Homo sapiens: one gene and its partners. The protein of the gene in region 1 purifies or fractionates together with the protein of each later gene. This does not show direct contact. Each region holds a gene or a part of one and is shown on either strand. Other genes may lie near its edges.

The links.
Region 2: the proteins of WRAP73 (region 1) and MTMR3 purify together in Homo sapiens (affinity purification with mass spectrometry; 2 studies listed by BioGRID and IntAct, with this or other methods). This does not show direct contact.
Region 3: the proteins of WRAP73 (region 1) and SPEN purify together in Homo sapiens (affinity purification with mass spectrometry; 3 studies listed by BioGRID and IntAct, with this or other methods). This does not show direct contact.
Region 4: the proteins of WRAP73 (region 1) and CLEC16A purify together in Homo sapiens (affinity purification with mass spectrometry; 3 studies listed by BioGRID and IntAct, with this or other methods). This does not show direct contact.
Region 5: the proteins of WRAP73 (region 1) and ZBTB44 purify together in Homo sapiens (affinity purification with mass spectrometry; 3 studies listed by BioGRID and IntAct, with this or other methods). This does not show direct contact.
Region 6: the proteins of WRAP73 (region 1) and PRCC purify together in Homo sapiens (affinity purification with mass spectrometry; 3 studies listed by BioGRID and IntAct, with this or other methods). This does not show direct contact.
Region 7: the proteins of WRAP73 (region 1) and ZC3H14 purify together in Homo sapiens (co-immunoprecipitation; 3 studies listed by BioGRID and IntAct, with this or other methods). This does not show direct contact.

The regions. Positions count from the first base shown.
Region 1 is NC_000001.11:3,630,270-3,633,103, forward strand, and holds the end of WRAP73 (WD repeat-containing protein WRAP73), read right to left. Parts: intron 2,070-2,834; coding exon 1,944-2,069; intron 1,888-1,943; coding exon of another isoform or gene 1,754-1,887; intron 1,389-1,753; coding exon 1,197-1,388; exon of another isoform or gene 849-1,196; coding exon 706-848; 3' UTR 501-705; downstream 1-500.
Region 2 is NC_000022.11:30,015,674-30,019,173, reverse strand, and holds part of MTMR3 (phosphatidylinositol-3,5-bisphosphate 3-phosphatase MTMR3), read right to left. Parts: intron 2,647-3,500; coding exon 2,476-2,646; intron 1,248-2,475; coding exon 1,102-1,247; intron 558-1,101; exon of another isoform or gene 445-557; intron 1-444. UniProt on the Homo sapiens protein: Lipid phosphatase that specifically dephosphorylates the D-3 position of phosphatidylinositol 3-phosphate and phosphatidylinositol 3,5-bisphosphate, generating phosphatidylinositol and phosphatidylinositol 5-phosphate.
Region 3 is NC_000001.11:15,854,207-15,857,706, forward strand, and holds part of SPEN (msx2-interacting protein), read left to right. Parts: intron 1-3,500. UniProt on the Homo sapiens protein: May serve as a nuclear matrix platform that organizes and integrates transcriptional responses. In osteoblasts, supports transcription activation: synergizes with RUNX2 to enhance FGFR2-mediated activation of the osteocalcin FGF-responsive element (OCFRE).
Region 4 is NC_000016.10:11,126,064-11,129,563, forward strand, and holds part of CLEC16A (protein CLEC16A), read left to right. Parts: coding exon 1-83; coding exon of another isoform or gene 84-217; exon of another isoform or gene 218-281; intron 282-3,307; exon of another isoform or gene 3,308-3,435; intron 3,436-3,500. UniProt on the Homo sapiens protein: Regulator of mitophagy through the upstream regulation of the RNF41/NRDP1-PRKN pathway. Mitophagy is a selective form of autophagy necessary for mitochondrial quality control.
Region 5 is NC_000011.10:130,234,918-130,238,417, reverse strand, and holds part of ZBTB44 (zinc finger and BTB domain-containing protein 44), read left to right. Parts: intron 1-1,324; coding exon 1,325-1,625; intron 1,626-2,201; exon of another isoform or gene 2,202-2,308; intron 2,309-3,500. UniProt on the Homo sapiens protein: May be involved in transcriptional regulation.
Region 6 is NC_000001.11:156,774,035-156,777,534, forward strand, and holds part of PRCC (proline-rich protein PRCC), read left to right. Parts: intron 1-3,500. UniProt on the Homo sapiens protein: May regulate cell cycle progression through interaction with MAD2L2.
Region 7 is NC_000014.9:88,566,037-88,569,536, reverse strand, and holds part of ZC3H14 (zinc finger CCCH domain-containing protein 14), read right to left. Parts: intron 1,680-3,500; exon of another isoform or gene 1,499-1,679; coding exon 1,384-1,498; intron 1-1,383. UniProt on the Homo sapiens protein: RNA-binding protein involved in the biogenesis of circular RNAs (circRNAs), which are produced by back-splicing circularization of pre-mRNAs.

The DNA of each region.
Region 1 (2,834 bases):
CAACCTAGGTTTGCAACCCTGATCCCCCCACCTGTGGTGCCAACCAAGTCTGGCTGCCTGCCGAGCACCAGCTGGAGAGATTGATGGAATGGTTCTGGGTGGTTCTAGGCACTTCCTGCAAATAGCCAGGGTGGAGACCCACGCACACTGGTTCCGAAACCAGAGTAGACATGAGACTTCCTGAGGAACTGACTCAGCTGGTCGGGGACCTGCAGCTCCCATCCCGAGGGGACTGGACCTGGGGGTGGCGCTGCTCTCAGGTGCCAGGGCTCCCTGCCCACACTTCAGACCCACTGTGGGGAGGCTGGATGTGCCCCACAGAGATGCCCCCTCGTTGTCCTAACACATCCAAACAGAGAACCCAGAGCAGGCCGGGTGTCTGGCGGGAGCTAGTGGCCCGGGGCTCAGTTACTGTAGGGCTATCCATCTTCCCTAAGACTGACCAGAACCTCGAACCTAGAAAACCTGCCTGTGACTAAACGTTTCAAGAAGAGAAGTAGTTGTATAAATCAGCAAGTATTTATTTTAAATAATAAAACTACAGTTTTATACCATACATATTTACAAAAATGCTTTGCTATAGAAAAATAGAATCAATCACTGAATCCAGACCACCACAGTGGAGAACCTCCTGGTGAAGCTGTGTTTTTTCCCACACTGGAAACACAGAGTAGCCCTGTTTCTGCACACGTTAGTGCACCGCTGCTACGTGTGGCCGCCCAGCTGTCTGCAGGCTGTGCCGACCACTGCCTCTGTCTCCAGGAAGCAGAGGCAGAAGTGATCCTTGCTGAGGAGGGCCATCGAGTCTCCGCTTAAATGCCAGCACAGAGAGAGCACTGCAAAGTCGCCTAGAGAGAGACAGGTGGCCAGAGGATTACAGCAGGGGAGGCCCAGATTCTGGGGGATGGGCACCCCCTTGTCCTGCAGGCCAGCACAGTGCCTGGAGTGACCCACATAGGCAGAGCCAGGGTGGAGCCCCAGAGCTGCCTCAAGTCAGGGAGAGGCTGCTTCTAGCCCATAAAGCTGAGGGCAGCGGGTCCCCTGTGTGTCCGTCTTGAGGTTTACGCAAAGACTCTGAGGGCAGTTTCCCTGGAGTGCTGCCGGAGACAGCAGCTGGGCTTCAACAGTTCAGCCCGTGTGATGCCAGACTGCACACAGCAAGGCTGCCACGTCCGTGGCCTCGGGGATGTGCTTACCTTCCCCAGGCACCTGCACCGACATGCAGCCCGCTGGGGACCACAGGTAGAGCCTGCTGCCTCCCGTGCAGATGGCCAGCCGCGGCTGCTGCGGGTCCCACTGAAATGCGCGCACTGGGGACAGCTGCTCGAGCACCGCGAACAGCCTCAGCTTCTGAATGTCCCAGACCCAGACGGCATTGGGAATGTTGTCTGAGGAAGGAAGGACAGGGCACCGGTGTCATCCCTGCCTGGCTCCTCTGTGTTGGCCCTGCCCCTCTGCTCTGCTGTTGACACCACAGGAGGGGAGGGGAAGAACCGGTGGGGTGGGGCGGCTGCACCCTGCAGTCTGGGTTCAGTTGGGCCCTGTAGGGCTCCTGGCCAGGGCCAGGGTGGCCATCACGGGCTGTAAGGGGCCCAAATGTGTTTCTTTCTTTGGTATTTTTTTTTTTTTTTTAGCCCTTTACAAATGGAGAAACCCTTAACAAAAGGCGGGCTGCAGTGTGCCCAGCCCTGCTTTCTACTCAGCAGAGTGGAGCAAGTGAGCAGGGTGGAGGCCTCCTGACTCATGCGCGGACCTGCGGCTGCTGCAGGACAAAGGCCCAGCGCCTCCAAGGAGCTTCTGTGAGCACCTCGGCTACTGCAGAAACGTGAAAGGAGGTGACGTGTCGGAAACCCCCAACTTCATTTTCTTTTCCAGTCGCTTCTACACCTGGGGCCACAGGACACAGTAAAGGGTGAGACAGCACCTGCGTCAGCACAACTGACCGTTCCTTGTCGCCAGGAAGTAGCTGTCAGGACTAAATGCCAGCATTCCTATGCCGATTTTCGGGTTTGCTCTGTCGGTAACAGGTTTCAGTGTCTGTAAGGAGACTGGGACAGAGGCGATCTCATCTAGAACACCAACAGGAAGAACACGCCATTGTCACCCTTTCGGGAAGTACGCACGCGGCTGAGAGGCTGCTGTGCCTGCATCGGGCATCGCGAACCCAGCTCCTCTGTTCAAAGGGGAGGAAAGTGCGGCCCAAGGGCAGGAAGAGCTAAGCAAAGCCTGGCAGCCGCAGCGAGGGGCCTGCCCGCAAGTGCCCCGGATGAGAGTGGCACCATCACCTGCCAGGCCCGACTAGGTGGGGGGTGGACCCCACGTGCCAGGGGCTGACTGGAGAGGGACATGGACAGGTCCTAGCTGCAATCTCAGCAGCTCCAACTCCTCAGCACTTTTCTGTCGACTACCAGCATCTGAGTTCACAATCCCTTCCACCTCAGCGTCAGTACCCTTAGACTTTCCGGCTGTGGAAGAACCATCATCACAGCAGAAGCAGGGGCTGTGGAACAAGGACGCCCCTGGGCTCCTGGGGAGCGCCTCCTGTGTGCCAGGCTGCACCTGTCCTGACCCCCATCCTGAGCACACACCGAGCCCCGGGGTGGGCCCGTCGGCACTTGGGGCACCGCTTCCTCTACCTGCAACCTTCAGATGCCCTCATGCCCCTGTGGGATGGGTGCTTTTACTATGCCCATTTCAGCGATGAGGAAACAGACACATAGGAAATGCCCAGAGTCAAGAGGCTGCATCAGAACCGGGCCTCAAGCCGGAGACAGCGCTCGGGAGCACCGCCGGGTTCCAGACCCACTCTGAGCGCCACCCACGGAAAAGTGTTT
Region 2 (3,500 bases), on another chromosome or scaffold:
TGGAGTGCAGTGGCGGATCTCAGCTCACTGCAACCTCCGCCTCCCAGGTTCAAGCGATCCTGCCTCAGCCTCCTGAGTAGCTGGGATTATAGGTGTGTGCCACCACGCCCGGCTAGTTTTTTTGTATTTTTAGTAGAGATGGGTGTTTCACCATTTTGTTCAGGCTGGTCTTGAACTCCTGACCTCAGGTGATCCGCCCACCTTGGCCTCCCAAAGTGCTGGGATTACAGGCGTCAGCCACCGCGCCCGGCCTGCAAATGCTATTTCCAAAAGACGTTCTTCATGATGCTGCTGTGTTTCTCAGTGGATGGCAAAGTAGCACTGGTGTTTCTTGATATTACAGTATTTTAAATTAATGTATTATCTATCAGTCTGAATTTAATAAAGCTAATTCTCAAGTGACAAAGCCAAATTTTCTTTTCTTTTTTTTTTTTCCTGAGACAGGTCTTGCCCTGTCATCCAGGCTGGAGTGCAATGGATCTTGGATCACTGCAACCTCCACCTTCCAGGCTCAAGTGATCCTCCTGCCTCAACCTCCCAAGTAGCTGGGACTACAGGTATGTGCCACCACGCTTGGTTAGTTTTTGCATTTTGGGTAGAAACAGAGTTTCAACACATTGCCCAGGCTGGTCTGGAACTCCTGGGCTCAAGCGATCCTCCCACCTTGGCCTCCCAAAGTGCTGGGATTACAGGCATGAGCCACCAAGCCTGGCCCCAAAGCAAAATTTTCTGTCATCTGACAGCATCTGCCTTTTAAGCCTCAGAAGACAAATCATGGCAAATAGGCAGGAGCACAGAGCACTGGGGAAAACACAAACCAGGGGGTCACAGAAAAACTGGAGGATTTGCTCTATCACTGAGGAGCGGCTCAGTGTATGCAAAACAACATGAAGCAACAGGGCCTAACTCACTCCCAGAAACAAGGATCTTACAGCCTCGTAGCTCAGAAATCCCTATAACTTCCCTGAAAAAACTGCAGAGACCTAAGAAAGATACTGTGGAGCCAGATACCATCATGATCTCTGACCATCCCTGCACACGTCCCAACACAGGAATACACCCACACAGGCTGTCAGGCCTGTGGCATCACCCTGGGCTCACCGGCTCAGGGGGGGATCATCAGGGCTGGTGCCTGGGGCTGGGTATGGTGCACAGCTGTCGTCCACAGGGGTGGTTGGGGATGGGCAGGGCAGGTACACTGCACTCCACAGCATCAGGTTACGCACATGGCACACAGGGTACAGCACCTGAGGAGGGGGGAGGACACAGGTTTAAATATGCCCCAATAAGTCTTCTAGGATGTCTGGAAATGAGGATCAAGAGCAAGCACCCAGCTGGAATACCCAACAGGGCTGACAGGATCTCCACAAAGAAGCAGCACCAATGGATACAGGTCTATCCCAAGAGGACCAATACAGGACTAGACATTTTATATAGCCAACATTTTTCACCTAAGAGCCACTTGAGAGCATGAAAATATAAAATATTTTTTAGATCCCTTTCTCATTATAGTTATTTCTTAGGTCACCTTCAATGTCTGACTTTCATCAGCTTGATTTGTTGCTTTTACTGCCTAAGAAAGTGAGTCATTCTGTTAGATGGTGATTGTCCATCCTGCTGGCACAAAAGCTTGGCTTCAAGAAACACTGTCAAACCCATTTTATGGGATCATTTAAATTAATCATGTGAAAAGAAGGAAATTTTCCTGCTGTATTGTTACTTCCCCAGAAGGCACACTGAAGGGGAGAGACAAGCAGTCAGCTTAAATCTTTTCTGTGATTACTTAAATGTAATGAGAACCATATTAATAGTCCAGGAAATCAGTATGAACTCTGATTAGCCTCCTTTTGACTTCTTTAGGGTCTAAGATGCATTCTGACAAAGCTAGTATTACTATGAAACTGACACATAGGTCTATGTGCCTCCTTTTCTCTGCTTAACAGAAGGTATTCATTCCTTCGGGGAACAAAGTCTTAAAGGGCCTGCCAGCTCTTCATGTGAGCAGAGAATCAGACAGACACACATACCAATGTCAAACACAGTTTACTGTTCTGAGACAGAAGCTTTGGTGGGTATCATTGCTTATTGACACTGGGAGGGTGCTGGGGGCCTGGTGGCAGCTCATTCTGAGCTATCAGTGCATCAGGAAGCAACTTAAGTGCCTCTCCCGTAAGACAGAATATGCTAGAAATAAGCTCTGGAGGCAGTGCCAAAAAAGATTCATGTCTAGGGTGGCAAAGTAGAGATCTGTGTTAAACCAAACCACCCTCAGCAAGTAGTCATCAGAAACAGATCAGAGCACCATCAGAAGCAGGCCTTCCTCAGGACAGAATCATGGGGGAAAAATGGAACCAGTCCATCCAGAGACAGTAGAGATGTCTTCACAAAAACAGTCACTACTCAAAAAGGCTCTCATATGTAACCAACCCCAAATTCCTTCTGCTGACCACAGTGGAAAGGCTGAAGGATACATACGGCTTCTGACTGAGAGGAATACAGTAGGTTTTTGAAAGCCTTGTTGCCTGCCCGAAGAAGTGACCACACGGAACATGTCCGTTCCTGAGTATGCTTTTCCCCTCTCTCCTTGGCGTTGTTGCACAGGAATGTTCCAAACAGGCAGGAATAGGTATGCTGCACCAGTTTCACCTATGGAAGTCCAATGAAGCACAAATTAAGCAATCAGGCATGCACACTCTGATAAGTCAGCTCAGCTGAGCCACCTTATCCTAACATCCCTGAGAACACTTCAATTTACTCTGTCAGGACGGGGAACCCAGTAAGCCATGCAGTAGCCTCCTCCTCCTCACACCACCAATTCCAGGACCCAACAACCTGAGTCAGACAGGTTGTTGGTGCCCCTATTCCTCTTAGCTTCCGTGATAAATAGTCTGAGATTGTGAATTAACAGCCACTCTCACAAGCGCCACAGCATATGAACTGGGTGCAGGAGCACGTCAGTGTACAACTCAAGTCTGAGCTGACAGTATGTTTGTAAAACTACTTGTTCATTCTACAAATTATTGAGCATTTCACATGGCCCAAACATGACTAAGGTGCTGGGCATGTAGCAATGACCAGCAAATTCTTCTGCCCTGATGGAGCTTGCTCTAGTCATAGCTGAAGAGTGACCAGTGCTATGGAGAACAAGGCAGACTGAGATGGACAGGACACATATGAGGCAGTGCAGGATGGCCTCACTGGCTGGGACCCAGTGGACTTGAAAGAGCAGGCATGTGGGTATCTGAGGGGAAGCACTCCAGGCAGAGGCAACCACAGGTGCAATGGCTTTGAGGTAAAGCACATGCTTGCAATTTCTGAGCTACAGCAAGGAGGCCAGTGTGACTAAAGGAGATTGCAGAAGAGGGAGAATGGTAGGAAATGAACCTAGAGAGGTAACCTCTAGGAAGGCCCTGGAGACCATTTTAAGAACTTTGGCTTTTGTGTAAAATGTAACTAGAGGTTTTTAAGCCAAGGAATGACACAGCCTGCCTTGTGTTTTA
Region 3 (3,500 bases), about 12 Mb from region 1:
TATTCATTAAATTGGGCTCCTGAATTGTGTTATTAGATGATTTGAAATAAGTGCTGTTCAGCCCCTTGAAACACATATATTAGCCTGCTGAACAAGGAGACTAAATAAAGTACATTTATCTGTAGTTAAATTAACAATCTTCTTTACTATTTGGTTTAAATTTTTCTTTAAACTTATTATTTTTACTTGCCTTACAGCTACACATATTTTGAATGAAAATAGTGTACTCCTCTGTGGAAACCAATTAGAATGTTAATCATTTTATTAGAAAGCATGTAGTTTTTTTTTGTTTGTTTTTGAGACGGAGTTTCGCTCCTGTTGCCCAGGCTGGAGTGCAATGGTGCTATCTCGGCTCACCGCGACCTCTGCCTCCCAGGTTCAAGCAATTCTGCCTCAGCCTCCCAAGTAGCTGGGATTACAGGCATGCACCACCACACCCAGCTAATTTTGTGTTTTTAGTAGAGACGGGGTTTCTCTGTGTTGAGGCTGGTCTCGAACTCTTAACCTCAGGTGATCTGCCCACCTCGGCCTCCCAAAGTGCTGGGATTATAGGTGTGAGCCACCGCGACCGGCCAAAACCATGTAATTTTTATGTGATATCTAGCTGGTTTTTAGTGTGTGGAAATATGCTTTGCAGTGAGTGAAAAGATTTTTTGGATATAATTTTAAAGTATCTCAATATTCAGATTGTTCTCCCTACATGTATTCCTGTCTGCCAAGTTGAAGATTACAAGCATCTAAAAAAACCATAGTGGAATGGCTCTATAAAATCCTAACTTAAATTTAGTGAATTCTTGGATTTAATTACTTATGATTTCATTTTGAGTATAGAAATGAAATGAACTCTAGCATATTTAAAGATTTGTATTATATAGTTTAAGGAACTGCTCCAATCCTTAGAATTAAGGAAGATTTGTGGGAAAATTCAAATGAGAAACACTATTTCTTATCCTGTGTACCTGGTGCTAGATTTTTAGTCCAGCCTTAAATGCAAGGGTTGCATGTGCCTGTCTTTGTATTAGATGCTGTTTGGGTCACTAGGGAACATTGCCAAATGATATGAAGATTCTTTTAATTATACATTGTATTGACTTTGATTGTTATATTCCCATTATGTTACACATAACGTATGTACTTTTACATATAATACATTTATAGTTTCTTTGATTCTTAAAATTGACTAAAAGTGATTTTTTTTTTACACATCATTTATTTTTCCTTTGATTTAAAAACTGGGGCTTATGTACTCAAAAAACATTTTGCAGTTTACAAAACTATATTTAACATATAGCGATTTGTCTTTTACCAATCAAATTGGTAGGTAGAAGTATTTTGTCTGAACCAGTAATTTTTTTAAATTACACTGTTTGCAGCTGGGTGCGGTGGCTCATGCCTGTAATCCCAGCACTTTGGGAGGCTGAGGCGGGCGGGCGGATCATGAGGTCAGGAGTTTGAGACGAGCCTGGCCAACATGGTGAAACCCTATCTCTACTAAAAATACAAAAAATTAGCCTGGCATGGTGGCAAGCACCTATAATCCCAGCTACTCGGGAGGCTGAGGCAGGAGAATCGCTTGAACCCAGGAGGTGGAGGGTGCAGTGAGCCAAGATCATGCCATTGCACTCCAGCCTGGGTGACAGAGCAAGACTCTGTCTCGAGAAAAAAAAAAAATTATGCTGTTTGCAGTGAAGGCTCATTTGCATTCAAGATTATTTAAAAGTGTCCTTGGATTAAAAGATAAAAGAGTAATTTATTACTTTATTGTGTGAAAAGGATGCTAGAACTTTTTTTTTTTTTTTTTTTTGAGACGGAGTTTCTCTCTCTTGCCCAGGCTGGAGTGCAGTGGTGTGATCTCGGCTCACTGCAAGCTCCACCTCCTGGGTTCACACCATTCTGCGTCAGCCTCCCAAATAGCTGGGATTACAGGCACCTGCCACCACACCCGGCTAATTTTTTTGTATTTTTAGTAGAGACGGGGTTTCACCATGTTAGCCAGCATGGTCTCGATCTCCTGACCTCAGGATCCGCCCGCCTCGGCCTCCCAAAGTGCTGGGATTACAGGTGTGAGCCACCGTGCCCGGCCAGATGTTAGAATCTTTAATGAAGACCTCATCGATCAGAATTCAGGAGGAAGTACTAAACTTGGGTGGGAAAATACCTCTTTATTTTTAGTAACTTCTTACTGGGATCTAATATTTCCTTCAACTATAATATAGAGAAAACTAATAGTAGTTGTGATTTTCGTCACCAATACAAATCATATATATTTTCATATTTTATATTACAGTTTTTGCAAATACTTCATTATTGTCATCACAACTTGGAAATTACAGTGGCTGTTAGATCTGCTGCCAGATACTTTTTTTTTTTTTTTTTTTTGAGACAGAGTCTTGCTGTGTCACCCAGGCTGGAGTGCAATGGCATGATCTCGGCTCACTGCAACCTCTGCCTCCCAGGTTCCAGCAATTCTCCTGCCTCAGTTTCTCGAGTAACTGGAATTACAGGCGCCCACCACCATGCCCAGCTAATTTTTGTGTTTTTAATAGAGACGGGGTTTCACCATGTTGGCTAGGCTGGTCTTGAACTCCTGATCTTAGGTGATCCGCCCACCTCGACTTTACAATGTGCTGGGATTACAGTCATAAGCCACTGCGCCTGGCCTAGATACTTTTATTTGGTGTGTTAGTAAAGAAGCATATATATTACTATATGATCAATTTGTGTTATATATCTTAAAAATTCTATCTCAGGAATTTTGAACATACACAAAAGTGGACACAATAGTCAGTGAATCCCAAGTTCCTCTCGTTCATCTCCAACAACCATCAGTTATGGCCTATCTGCTTTTCTCCTTCCTGTATTTTTTTTTTTCTTGAGACAGGATCTCACTTTGTCACCCATGCTGGAGTGCAGTGGTGTGATCACTGCTTACTGTGTCCCTTCAACCTCCCGGGCTCAAGAGATCCTCCCATCTTAGCTTTCCAAGTAGCTAGGACTACAGGCGCACACCACCATACTCGGCTAATTTTTGTATTTTCTGTAGAGACAAGGTCTCACTCTGTTGCCCAGGCTGGTCTCGAACTCCTGGGCTCAAGTGATCTGTCTGCCTCGGCCTCTCAAAGTGCTGGGATTACAGGTGTGAGCCACTGCACCCAGCCTTTTTTTTTTGAGACGGAGTCTCGTTCTGTTGCCCAGGCTGGAGTGCAGTGGCGTGATCTCAGCTCACTGCAACCTCTGCCTCCCGGGTTCAAGCTATTCTTGTGCTTCAGCCTCCTGAGTAGCTGGGATTACAGGCGTGTGCTACCACGCCCAGCTAGTTTTTGTATTTTTAGTAGAGACAAGGTTTCACCATGTTGGCCAGGCTGGTCTTGAACTCCTGACCTCAAGTGATCTGCCTGCCTCAGCCTCCCAAAGTGCTGGTATTACAGGCGTGAGCCACCGTGCCCGGCCCCTATTTATTTATTTATTTTCATAAAAAAATTGTTTTTTTTCTACCCAGG
Region 4 (3,500 bases), on another chromosome or scaffold:
CCGCTTCTACGACCAGGGGCGCCGGGGCAGCAGCGACCCCACAGTGCAGCGCTCCGTGTTTGCATCGGTGGACAAGGTGCCAGGTGAGCCAGCCCCCCGCCCTGCGCCACAGCTCGTTCATCATGGTGGGCGTTCAAGGTCTTTCTCTCTGTGGAGCCTGTGTGAGCTGCCCTTCCTCTCTCAGAAGCCCCGTCGGCTGGCAGCACCAGCTTCTTAGAATTTGTCAAAGCACAGCGCAAGATTAAACACAGCCCCCAAAATAAATTTTGGCTTTCCCTTTAGTGTTTGGTTTGGTTTTCCAGAGATTTGTTGGGTATGTGGAAGAACTTCTCAGAATTGACTAAGAATTTTCTTGGAAATTTCTTGGAAACATTTAAATGATTAGTGCTGAAGTTGTGGGAGAGTAATTTCCTTCTCCATGTAAGATGACTAGAAAGAGAGAGTGTGTTTGGTTCCGGTTACAACCCCCTGAAGAAGTGAGACTTCAAAAGAAGGCCGTGCTGCCCACAGGTCAGCTGTCCACTCCTTCCATATGAGGGCGTCTCCTCCCACTTTTGCCACAGCTCATCTCTAACCCTGCTCCTCCGCTCCTCCCAAAACAGAAACTTGAATGGAAAGTCCATTGCTGATTTGTCAGAGTGGAAAGGACCACTTCTCCAGAAGACCGAGTTCTCCCCTTCCTGTTCTGACATGTCTGCTTTAAGTAAATCCGTATGCACCCCGATCCCTCGAAAGAGAGCCTTTCTTTTGGTTGCAAAAGTTTAGAGCGCTGGCCAAGCTCTCCCTCACAACTTAACCCCTCCCCATATAGGGCTTCAAACTTAAGTTGCAAGTGTTGTGAAATGTTTTCAAAAGCAGTTATTGATTTAAGAACAAAACGCAGCCATAGGAACCTGCTCAAAACCCGAGTCCTGGTTCCCCCATGTGATTTATTTTAGTTTCATTGTTTGATAATTCATTATTTATATGTATATACCGTAGGCATATGATTTTTTAAAATCCAGACAGGAGATGATCAAATGAAAAATAAGTCTACTTTGCTTCAGAAGTAACTATTGTTAACAGTTTCTTGCCTGTCTTTCCAGAAATATTTCTTTGTATGTCATGCATATGTTTGTTTTTTACACATGGGGTATACCGTATGTCTGATGCTGCACCTTGCTACTTCTTCCTTAATAGAAAGTGTCACACATTAACACGTATAAATCAACCTAATTCTCCTTAACTGTTACATGGTATTTTGTCATATGGATGGGCAAAAAAATCTTTTTTGCTGTTTCGTATTTGGGTCATTTCCAGTGTTTTGCTCTTACAGTGTCACAGTGAGCATCCTTAGGGTGTCTTTGTGTAATTGTGCAAATTTCTCATGTCTGTGTGATAAATTCCTAGCAGTGAATTTGCCAAAGGGGAAGGTTTTTAATCTTGATATATGTAGTCCCAACGTGAACTCTAGAAAACAGTACACCAATTCACTCTGCCACCCACAGCTTGTGATTGGTTTCTTTCTTAAATCCAGTCTCAGGGCTGGGCATGGCGGCTCATGCCAGTAATCCTAGCACTTTGGGAGGCTAAGACAAGGCGGATTGCTTGAGCCCAGGAGTTTGAGACCAGCCTGGGCAACACAGTGAGACATCGTGTCTAGTATAAATAAAAAATTAGCCAGGCATGGTGGTGGGCACCTGTGGTCTCAGCTACACTCAGGAGGCTGAGGTGGGAGGGTCACTTGAGCCCAGGAGGTTGACGCTGCAGTGAGCTATGATTGTACCATTGCCCTCCAGCCTGGGCAACAGAGTGAGACCCTGTCTCAAAAAGAAAAGAAAAAAATAATCTTAGGCTGAGAGACTGATTGTGGCACCGCCTGTTTTCAGTGATGAAATGTGAGATGATTCTGCCTGTTTCAGGGTCAGGAGGATTCTTTGCTTAAAAAATTCTGCAGGTTGCTTCGTGTTCTGTGGCTATGATTGCTAAGTAAATATAAAGTGTGACTGAGTCTAAGTTAACTAAGTACAAATTGACCTGGTAAGAAATGACTTCTTTAGGGTCATTGAGGCGTCTTTCAGTTTCGGAACTTACTGGTTAAAGAGAAAAGCCCAGGCCTTATTTCTGTTCTGAGCCCTTTTGGAACAAGGTAGAATGTAAATAAATACATGGAGCCAAGCGGCCCATTCTTCAGCATCTACATGATCATTTCTCTGTTTGCAGAATGCTTTAGGATGACTTATTGCTTACCTCTTCTACCCTGCCTGGCCTTCCACCGGTGGGTGAGAACATCAAATGCCAGGAGTGTGGCCCGGCTCCAGAACCTGGGCCTGCCTGCCGGGGTGGTTGGCACAGCTGGGATGCCCCATGTCCTGTTGCTGGTCCCAGGGTCAGCAAGTGTGAGGCTGTGCCAACTGGGACAACAGCAAGTCAGAGGTGGCTGCTGAAGGCAGCATCCACCCCTTGGCTGTGTCTCCCCTGACTGCCCCTGGAAGTGCCACTCAGCTATGAGGAGTGAGATGGAGACATTCTTATTTATCACACCACCCCCGCAAAGAGGGAGGCCTCGCTGCCCTCCCACCTTGGCTTGGCACCAGAGCTGTGTCCTGAAGAGCAAGTTGAAATCCCTGAGCCTTGGCATGGTGGGAGCATAGGCTGCCCCCACCCCCATCTCAGTAGTCAGGGTCCCCCACAGCAGCAGCCACTCAGCACTTTGGAATCATTCTTAAAACTTTTCACCCTGCTTCCACACCCACCAGCCTGCTTGGCCTCCAGAAAATACTGAGATCCGAGATCTCCTCTCCCAGATCTCCCAAGATTGCAACAGAAGCCTTCTCAGGATCCCTAGCTTCCATTCAGCCAGTGGGATCATTCTAGTACTTAAATCAGATTACGTCATACCCCTGCCTCCAGCTTTTTGGTAGTTTCCTGTTGCACTTAGAACAAAATCCACATCTCTCCTTCTGATCTTGGGTGGTGGCTGTGAGATCCGGCCCCAACTGGCCTCTCAGATGAAGTTCCCCCAACCCCAAGCTCACTCTAGCCCCAACCCCAGCCTTGCCAGCCCCTGCTGCTCCTCTAAGCTAGCATTTCTCAGAGTTTTAGCCTCAGCACCCACGTGTTTATCTGCTTAAAAAGTATTACAGAACTTAAAGAGCTTTCATTTAGATAGATTATATTTATAGATATTTATGACATTAGAAATTAAAACTAAGAAATGCTTTCAATATATACTTCTTGAATAAACCCATTGCATATATGCATAACTAACATAGTTTTCTATGAACAATAACTCTGTTTTCCAAAACATAGAAAAAAATTGATCTTGCACATTTCTGCAAGTCTCTTTAATGCCTGGCTTAATAGAAGACATCTGGATTCTCCTCTTTGCTTCTGTTTTCTGTCTGTTGTGATAGCATGCATTCTGTGGCCTCTGGAAAACTCCTCAGTACACCCCTGGGAATATGAACATAAAAGAAAAATGTCTTACTATTTTTATGAAAACAAGGATTTCCAGACCA
Region 5 (3,500 bases), on another chromosome or scaffold:
TAAGTGAACGCTCTAAAACATTTTATTTTGCAGTCCCAGTTAAAATAGAAAACAGGGGCTTCTGAGTTTTAAAAAAAACTCTGGGAAGTCAAATGAAAACAGATTAGCTAAGGTTTATTGCTGAAATGATGCAGTGTCAGAAAGCTGCTTGCCACGGGTGTTGAGTATTCTGATTAAAAGAACATAAGGTGATATGGAGTGAGTACTTTGTAAATAAAAAGACATATTAGGTGTGCACATAGAGGTGAGATAGAGAATCACAAACACAGATGGTAAAGCAAATAGGGTTAAAAGGGTCTGTATGGGTGTTCTTTGTGCTGTTCTTCTTATAATGTCTCTTTAAGTTTGAAATTTTTCCCAAATAAAAGTGTGTTTAAAAATGTAATATTTTCTTGCTAATTTACTTTCAATTCTACAGTCCTAAATCTCTGTGTGCCCTGATGAGTCAGCTTTGTAGTTTGTATTTTTTTAAACATAACAGAGATTTTGGATAAATGTATAGAGGGGATTTGAAATTTTAGTTCAGTAATCACATGAAGGCAACAGGATTCTTGTGGGTAAAACACTGACCTCTGACGAGTAAGAGATCTTTGCTGCTGTTTTCAGCTGCGTGAGTTACTATCTCACTTTCCCCTTCTGTAGATAGGTCTTACAGTCCCTGTCCTAGCACCAATTCTCTGTGACTTTGTTCAATCCGTAGACTGTGTTTTGAAAGGTTTTAAAATTTTTTCCCCAAAACACTGTGATAATGAATTTGAGGAGACTATTAATACACTTTATAACTCATTTATTTCTATCAATATTACATCATATTACCCAAAAAAACCCATTATATCAAATGATGGTTCTGTCATGCTCATTACATTCAGAGATGTTAAAATTGTTCTTTCTTCTCGTTTCTCTGTGAGATAGGGAACAGAGAGTAGGTACTGATGATTTTCATATCCGTTCAATGTAAACCTCTAATGAAATGAAATAATATGTGCTGTTAGTGGGGATTTGGGTTCTGTCTACATACTGTAGTTAAATTGTGTTTTGAAGTTAGTAAAATAGATGATCTAGAAAAGCATTCAAAAATCAGCTTCAGTAGACGTTACCTAGTTTGCCTCCCCTACTGCCTTTTTTTCTTTTCCTTTTTAAGCACTTGTGACTTTTCACATATTCTGCACATTTTCTGAGATACTCAATTAGAATATGTTTTTGCTGGTAATTCTTGCCTTTTCAGATGATCTGTTGCTACAGAAATATAGTTCAGAAATTTGTAGGGTTTATGACTTTTCAGTTTATTTTTGTTTTTAGATATTTTGTTTTGCTTTATTTACAGGAATTAAACCATTTCAGTGTGACCGCTGTGGGAAAAAGTTCACCAGGGCTTACTCGCTAAAGATGCATCGCCTAAAGCATGAAGGTAAACGCTGTTTCCGGTGCCAGATATGTAGTGCCACTTTCACTTCCTTCGGGGAATATAAACACCACATGAGGGTTTCCCGGCACATTATCCGCAAGCCTCGGATTTACGAGTGCAAAACATGTGGCGCCATGTTCACCAACTCTGGAAATTTAATCGTGCACCTGAGGAGTCTGAACCATGAAGCATCAGAGCTAGCAAACTACTTCCAGAGCAGGTGAGGTGCACAACGAAAACCCAACCAGGAAAACTGCTTTCTAAACTCTCTTTTCCTGCTTTTAGGGCAGCCTTCTGTGTTTTTACATCAGGTTGCCAGCTAGTCAGTCACATTTGTTACGGATTCCCACTGTTCATACTCTAATCTCCTGATCTGATAAAATTTTGCTGAGTCTTCTACGTATATAAAATTATAAACATTTTATAGTTGGTATTAAAAATATTTTCCTGCAGAAGTAGACTACTTGTCCTCTTGAGATATTTTTTAAATAATACAAGGTTTAAGTAATTCTGTAATGGACCTTAAATAGATCTTACTGGAAATTTTACCATGTCAGATGATGCTTAGTGATACTGGATTACTCCAGACTCTAGATGTTAATAAAATTCTTTACCACTTCTCTCTATTTAAAAATATTCTATATAAAGGAATAGCCATTGGCCAGTAAGAAAAATTTCAAAGGCAACTATAGTGGGTGTGATGGTTTAGATCATGAAGTCATTGCTATTTTCATTCAGTTTAGAGCTCTATTCTTGTAATATTAATTTATAATAGAATTACCTTTCTGATTTATAGGGCATCCCAGGAAATCAGCTTCTAGATCTAGCTCTGCCACTAACTGCTGTTGATTAAACCTGTCACTTTACACATGAAAAAGCTTGAAACTTAGAGAAAGATAAAATGTAAGCTTTAAACGATGGTTTCTAAGGCCTTCTCTAGATATAAAACTGTTGTTTTAAATTGTTTATAAGAATTGTACTTCTGTAGGAATCCTTAGTTTCTCATAAAATGAAATTTTTACAAATCTTTCTTTTTTTTTTTTTTGAGATGGAGTCTCACTGTCACCCAGGCTGGAATGCAGTGGCACGATTTCGGCTTACTGCAACCTCAGCCTCCTGAGTAGCTGGGATTACAGGTGCCCACCACTACACCCAGCTAATATTTGTATTTTTAGTAGAGATGGGGTTTCACCATGTTGGCCAGTCTGATCTCGAACCCCTGACCTCAAGTGATCCGCCTGCTTCAGCCTCCCAAAGTGCTGTGGGATTACAGGCGTGAGCCACCATGCCCAGCCCAAATCTTTACATTTTAAATCACCCTTATTTTTAAAACCTTTTTTTTTTTTAATTGAATAGATAGGGTCTTGCAGTGTTGCCCAGGCTGAAGTGCAGTGGCTGTTCATAGACACAATCATAGTGCACTGCAGCCTCGAACTCCTGAGGTCAAGCAGTTCTCCTGCTGGGGCTACAAGTGTGGGCACCACCCCTGACTTAAAACCTTATTTGTAAACAAATTCCAAATTATTCCTGCGTAGATTTTGTTTTTCCCTTCAAACCAGACATTCATTTTGTTTAATGCAGTCATCTCTAATTCTGAATGTGTGGTTGCCATATCACTAAACCTTAGGTTATACATATCATATTAAACATAGTTTGTTCAGGACTAAAATAGTGTTCCTGTTAACTACTCATGTTATCTTTATCGTCCCTGTACAGAGCCCTGTATTCTCCATTCTTCTTCTCTAACACCTGAATGAAGACTTTTTAGAAAATATAACATAGGGCATTCTAAATTACTTTGCAGATGAACAGATTTTAATTTTTTATTAATACTGAACAATGAAATTATAAAATAACCTTATCAAGTCTAAGTACATATATTATTGACAATTATGGTATAATGAAGTTCTTAGTTCAGTAATAAAGATTTAAATAAAGCCTCTAAGATAAGACTTATTTCACATACTTAGTTTCAATTACCAAAAGATGCTTATAAGTAGGAAATTTAGGAAATACAGAAAAGTATGAAGAAGAAATTTAAAATATTTTCTATTTCATCACTTAAGGAAAGTAGCCACTGTTTTTAGTATATTTT
Region 6 (3,500 bases), about 150 Mb from region 1:
ATCTAGAAAAGTCAAATTCATAGAGATGGAAAGTGGAATAGCAGTTACCAGGGGCTGGGGGGAGGTGGGGATAAAGAGTTACTGTTTAATGGGTGCGGAGTTTCTTTCTTTTTTTGAGTCACCTTTTTTTTTTTTTTTTTTTTTTTTTTTTTTTTTTTTGAGACAGAGTCTCTCTGTGTTGCCCAGGCTGGAGTGCAGTGGCTCAATCTTGGCTCACTGCAACCTCCGCCTCCCGGGTTCAAGCAATTCTCCTGCCTCAGCCTCCTGAGTAGCTGGGATTAAGGCGCCCGCCACTACACCCAGCTAATTTTTGTATCTTTAGTAGAGACGGGGTTTCACCATATTGGTCAGGCTGGTCTCGAACCCCTGACCTCGTGATCCGCCCGTCTCGGGCTCCCAAAGTGCTGGGATTACAGGCATGAGCCACTGTGCCCAGCCCTTTTTCTTTTCTTTTTTCTTTTTTTTTCAATGAAACAGGGTCTCAGTCTGTTGCCCAGGCTGGAATGTTGTGTCTCGATTATGGCTTACTGCAGCCTCTACCTCCTGGGCTCAAGCAACCCTGCTGCCTCAGTCTCCGCAGTAGCTGGGACTACAGTAATGTGCCACTGTACCTGGCTATGTTTTTAAACAATTTTTTTGCTGGGCATGGTGGCTCACGCCTGTAAACCCCGCACTTTGGGAGGCCGAGGCTGGTGGATCACGAGGTCAATAGTTCAAGACCAGCCTGGCCAAGATGGTGAAACCCCATCTCTACTAAAAATATAAAAATTAGCTGGGCGTGGTGGCGCATACCTGTAATCCCAGCTACTTGGGAAGCTGAGGCAGAGAATTGCTTGAACCCGGAAGGCAGAGGTTGCAGTGAGCCAAGATCGTGCCACTGCCCTCCAGCCTGGGTGACAGAGCAAGACTCTGTCTCAAAAAAAAAAAAAAAAGGCCGGGTGCAGTGGCTCATGCCTGTAATCCCAGCACTTTGGGAGGCTGAGGTGGGCGGATCACGAGGTCAGGAGATCGAGAGCATCCTGGCTAACACGGTGAAACCCCATCTCTACTAAAAATACAAAAAATTAGCCAAGCGTGGTGGCGGGTGCCTGTAGTCCCAGCTACTCGGGAGGCTGAGGCAGGAGAATGGTGTGAACCCGGGAGGTGGAGCTTGCAGTGAGCCGAGATTGCGCCACTGCACTCCAGCCTGGGCTGCAGAGGGAGGCTCCATCTCAAAAAAAAAATTGTTTTTGTGTGGAGATGGGGGTCTTACTATGTTATCTGGGCTGGCCTCAGACCCCTGGGCTCAAGTGATCCTCCTGCCTCATTTTTCTTTCTTTTGTTTTTTTTTTTTGGAGACAGGGTCCTGCTCTGTTGCCCAGCCTGGAGTGTAGTGGCACAATCTTAGCTTACTTCAGCCTTGGCCTCCTTGGCTCAAGCAATCCTCCTACCTCAGCCTTCTGAGTAGCTGGGATTACAGGCACATGGCCGATTTAAAATTTTTTTTTTTTTTTTGAGACAGAGTCTCGCTCTGTCGCCCAGGCTGGAGTGCAGTGGTGCAATCTCAGCTCACTGCAACCGCCGCCTCCCGGGTTCAAGTGATTCTCCTGCCTCAGCCTCCCGAGTAGCTGGGACTACCGGCACCCGCCACCACCCCCGGCTAATTTTTGTATTTTTAGTAGAGATGGGGTTTCACCATATTGGCCAGGCTGGTCTCGAACTCCTGATCTTGTGATCTGCCCACCTCGGCCTCCCAAAGTGCTGGGATCACAGGCGTGAGCCACCGCACCCGGCTAATTTTTAAAATTTTTTGGTAGAGATGAGGTCTCTCTACAGTGCCCAGACTTGTCTCAAAACTCCTGGGCTCAAGCAGTCCTCCCATCTGGGCCTCCCCAAATGCTGGGATTATAGGGGTGAACCACTGTGCCTGGCCATCCCCGCCTTGCCTCATTTTTGAAGTTGTCATTTTAGTGTTCTGTTTCAGGGAGTCTGTCATTTATGGTGTGTCATGAGATGATTCATAATAGGGGTCGGTAGAAGTTTTATATAAGATGTTCGGGCTGGGTGTGCAGTGGCTCATGCCTGCAATCCCAACACTTTGGGAGGCCAAGGCAGGTGGATTGCTTGAGGACAGGAATTTGAGATCAGCCTGCGCAACAGAGTGAGACCCTGCCTTTTATCTCTACAAAAAAATTTTAAAAATAAAATAACTGAGCATGGTGGGCAAGTGCCTGTAGTCCCAGCTACCTGGGAGGCTGAGGCAGGAAGATTGCTTGAGCCCAGGAGTTTGAGGTTACAGTGAGCTGTAATTGCGCCACTCTACTCCAGCCTGGGCACAACAGAGCAAGACCATGTCTCAAGGGAAAAAGATGTTCAAAGAGAAGAATGATTGTGAGTAGCCATAGCAATCCTCTAAATCTAGAAATAATAGACTGTTCCGAAGTCTTTATAGAGGTTTTTTTTTTGTGTGTGTGCTTTTAAACTATAAACTCAGGTTGTCAGTATAATGGAAACAATTTGTGACATTTACAGAGAAATTGAATTTTCTTTCCACAGTGGATCTGGCCTTCAATTCTATTAGCTGTGGAGCAGTTTGCCTATTACAGTCTTACAGTAGCCACTTTTTGTTTTTCAAAGGATCTGAAAAATAAGAATATGCTTGTATAGTTTTATAAATGTAATCATCTTAAATTTGGGTAAAATTTGTTTATTTCAGATTATTGCCATTGGACCTGTTGCCTATGATGTCAAAGTTTAAACGTATTTGGGGAATCCATGAAAACCTTATATACCCCATAGTGAGGTTGTTCTGTGTGGTCTGCCAGAAAGGAGATAAGTCTTCATGGTCAAAAGACGAGAGATGGTGAGGAGTCTGTAAGGAGCAATGAGAGTTAGTTTAGAACAGAAAGAAAAGGTAGAAAATGCTTAGGTGCCAGGTGCTTAAGTCTTTTCTTGGGTGAGTTTGATATCTTGGCAAACCAGAGAAAATAATAATTTTTGAACTTTGTTTAGAATTTTAGTTTGTATCATTTTCACTGGCAGTAGCTCCTGTGGTTGTGACATGGGTAAGTACTATTTGCACCTTAGGCTTGGGGAAGTTAAATAGCGGGATCCCTTAGCCAGTGAGGGGCAGAGCTGAGACTCAAACCAGTGCTTCTGATTTTGTGCTTCATGCTCTCTCAGCTGTGTCGTGTGGGATCTAGTGAGTGTGAATCTCAGACCTGGACAGCAGACAGCTCAGTTTGGTGTTCCCGCAAAAGCACGGGCACTGGAACTGGTTCTGATCCTGGTTCTGCCCCATCCTATTTTATCTCTCTGAGCCTTACTTTCTTCACCATAAAGTTGAGATAATAATAATGCCTACTTTGAAGTGTTATTATAAGAATTAAATGAAAAATGAGTAAATTGCCTGATACATAGGAAGCACTTGGTGGATGGTTGTCCTTTCCTTTGCCACCCTTTTCCTTTATCCCCCACATTTAGATACTAAGATGGATTTCCCTTACGGGTTAAAAAAAAAA
Region 7 (3,500 bases), on another chromosome or scaffold:
CTTTACCTCAAACCTGGTACCAGGACCTAGCATCTTAAGTTGAATCTTACTCTTCTAGTCAGTATTCTCAACTAAAGGCATATAACAGTAATTTATGTATAAAAGCAAAGTTGCCTATTTTAAAATTCCAAACTTAAAAAAACTTATAATCTCAAAATATGCTGTAACATTACACTACAATTATTACTCAAAATGAAGGTGTGAGTTTAACAAAAAGCTTAAAAAGTAAGAAACAGAAAAGTGAGAAACAGAAAACCTTGCCCTCTAAAGGTAACTCATTGTAAAAGGCAATGTAAGAAGCCAACCCAGTTCAAAAAAACATCTGTAACTGGTTTTGGTGGGGGAAAAGGAACTATAAGATACAGAAGCTGGCCAGGTGCAGTGGCTCATACCTATAACCCCAAGACTTCTGAAGGCCAAGGCAGGAGGACTGCTTGAGCCCAGGAGTTCAAGAGCATCCAGGGCAACATACTAAGACCCTGTCTGAACAAAAAATTTAAAAATTAGTCAGGCATGGGAGTTCAGGAAGGAGGGGACTGCAATGGGATGATCACTTGAAACCAGGAGATCGAGGCTGCAGCGAGCCATGATTGTACCACTGTGCTCCAGCCTGGTGACAGAGCAAGACCCTGTCTCAAAAAAAAAGATATAGAAGTTTACAAAAGAAACATATTAAGTATAGCCGACATATACTAAGAATTCCTTAGGAAAATGCTAGGGACACCTATAAGTACTTTACACATATTAGCCCATTTGATCCTCAATAATAATTTTATAAAGCAAGTGGCTGTACTATTTCCATTTTATAGCTAGAGAAACCAAGGCAAGACACAGCCAGGATTCAACTTTGGCTGTCTGGCTTCAGAGGCTGATAAGGTTTGGCTCTGTGTCCCCACCCAAATCTTATATTGAATTGTAATCCCCACCTGTCAAGGGAGGGAGGTGACTGGGTCATGGGGGTGGTTTCCCCCATGATGTTCTCATGATAGTGAGTTCTCAAGAGACAGTGAGTTCCCGAGTTCTCAAGAGACAGTGAGTTCTCACAAGATCTGATGATTTTATATAAGTCTCTGGAAGTTCCTCCTTCACTCTTCTCTTTCCTGTCGACTTGTGAAGAAGGTGCTTGCTTCCCCTTCCTGGGGCCTCCCCAGCCATGTGGAACTCTGAGTCAATTAAACCTCTTTCTTTTAGAAATTACCCAGTCTCGGGTATTTCTTCATAGCACTGTGAAAATGGACTAATACAGAGGCTGTGCTCTCATCACTCACAAACTGCCTCTCCAAAGTAAACCTAACTCAAGTGTCAAGAACCTCTCTTTGGACAGAATATCAACTCAGGCTTGTGCCAAACTTTGGTCTGAGGCACAAAAATTCAGAAACATACCATACGGTGAATCGAATTGTGTTGTTCCCTAGAAACAGGGACAGATCCTCTGTCATTTGGTCCTGACTTTTCTTGTTGGCCACCATCACCATAATGTAATCAGGAAGTTCTTCATCTATTTAAAAGGAAAGGTAGATCAAAACTTTGTTTCCTCAAAACTTTCTTCTTAAAGTTGATGTGCTTGAAAATATAGATGTAGCTCTAAGCTTTAGAGTCGCAGAGCTCTACTGGAATTACATTGGACAAGATGGCTTAGCTTTAATTTTTTTCTCTTCATTCCACAGGTATTTCAAATACTAGAAGAATGGAAATTAAGAATAATTGATACTTACAAAACTAAACATTCTGAATTATAGGGTCAAACTTGAGCATGCATTCACTTCCTTGAATCTTTTTAATAATGCTTATTAATTTCAAAGAAGCTTATGGGAAATATTTGAACATTCCCCAAGAAAAAGAATTGAGTTTTGTTTAGTTTTAATTTGCAAAGTTTCAAAATAACACTCATTTCTCAAGTGAACATCTTTACCCTTGCTAAAGGCAGGTTTCAATTACTCACAGTAACAAACTTGTAGCAACATCGAATAAACAAATAGACCCAAAAGCTCCACATCATTTAAAAAAATCAATTTTAACATTAAATAATGTCAACTCAATGCACGGTTTTACCCTCACAGTGGTAATCCTACAATGATTATAAGGGTGAGGTCTAGGATAAAAAAAAAAAAAAAAGAAAAAAGGCCAGGCGCGGTGGCTCATGCCTGTAATCCCAGCACTTTGGGAGGCCAAGGTGGGCAGATCACAAGGTTAGGAGATTGAGACCATCCTGGCTAACACAGTGAAACCCTGTCTCTACTAAAAATACAAAAAATTAGCCGGGTGTGGTGGTGAGCGCCTATAGTCTCAGCTACTCGGGAGGCCGAGGCAGGAGAATGGTGTGAACCCAGGAGGCGGAGCTTGCAGTGCGCTCAGATCCTGCCACTGCACTCCAGCCTGGGCAACAGAGCAAGACTCTGTCTCAAAAAAAAATAAATAAATAAAATAAATAAAAGAAGCCAAAAAACACCCTCCTAGTGGTAATCCTACAGTGATTATGAGAGTGAGGTCTAGGATTTAAAAGAACAAAAAAACAAAAACCTCACTAAGAAGATAAGGAAGCAAAAGCTGTTATCAGGAACTCTAATCTCTGACCCTCAAAACTCCATTCCAGTTCTCTTTTTTTTTTTTTTCTTTTACGACAGAGTCTTGCTCTGTCTCCCAGGTTGGAGTGTAGTGGCACAATCTCGGCTCACTGCAAGCTCTGCTTCCTGGGTTCAAGCGATTCTCCTGCCTCAGCCTCCCGAGTAGCTGGGATTACAGGCACCTGCCACCACACCCAGCTAATGTTTGTATTTTTAGTAGACACCAGGTTTCAGCATGTTGACTAGGCTGGTCTCGAACTCCTGACCTCAAGTGATCCACCCACCTCGGCCTCCCAAAGTGCTGTGATTACAGGCGTGAACCACCATGCTGTGACAAATTTCTTTAATACCTTAAATACTTGTAATATTTCTATGCAGGCAGAAAGGTTCATTTCAGAAGTACTTTTTTTGTTTCAAAGAAAACTATAAAAAATGCAGTTCAAGTGTTGAAAGAATAAAAGAATAAATAAATCTTGGTTCAGCTTTATTTTCTCTGAGCCTCAATTCTCTCATCTGTTAGTCTTCCAACAATCCTGACAACAAATCGTTTATGAAAGTGCCCAGCAAATGGTGGTAAGTACTCCATAAATTACCAATTCTCAAACTGTTTGGTCTTGGGCCCCTTCTTTGGTTTATGCAGGTTCTATTATTTATGGTGTTCAAAATTAGAACTGATCATTTTTAATTAAAAAGTATTTATTAATTCATTAAAAAATAAATCCATCACATGTTAATCACAAATCCAATTATATTAACACAAGTAACATTATTAAATTTTCCAAAAAAAAATTTAGGCAAGGCACAGTGGCTCACACCTGTAATCCCAGCACTCTGGGAGGCTGAGACAAGTGGATCACCTAAGGTCAGGAGTTCGAGATCAGCCTGGCCAACATGGTGAAACACCGTCTCCACTAAAAACACAAAAATTAGCCGGGG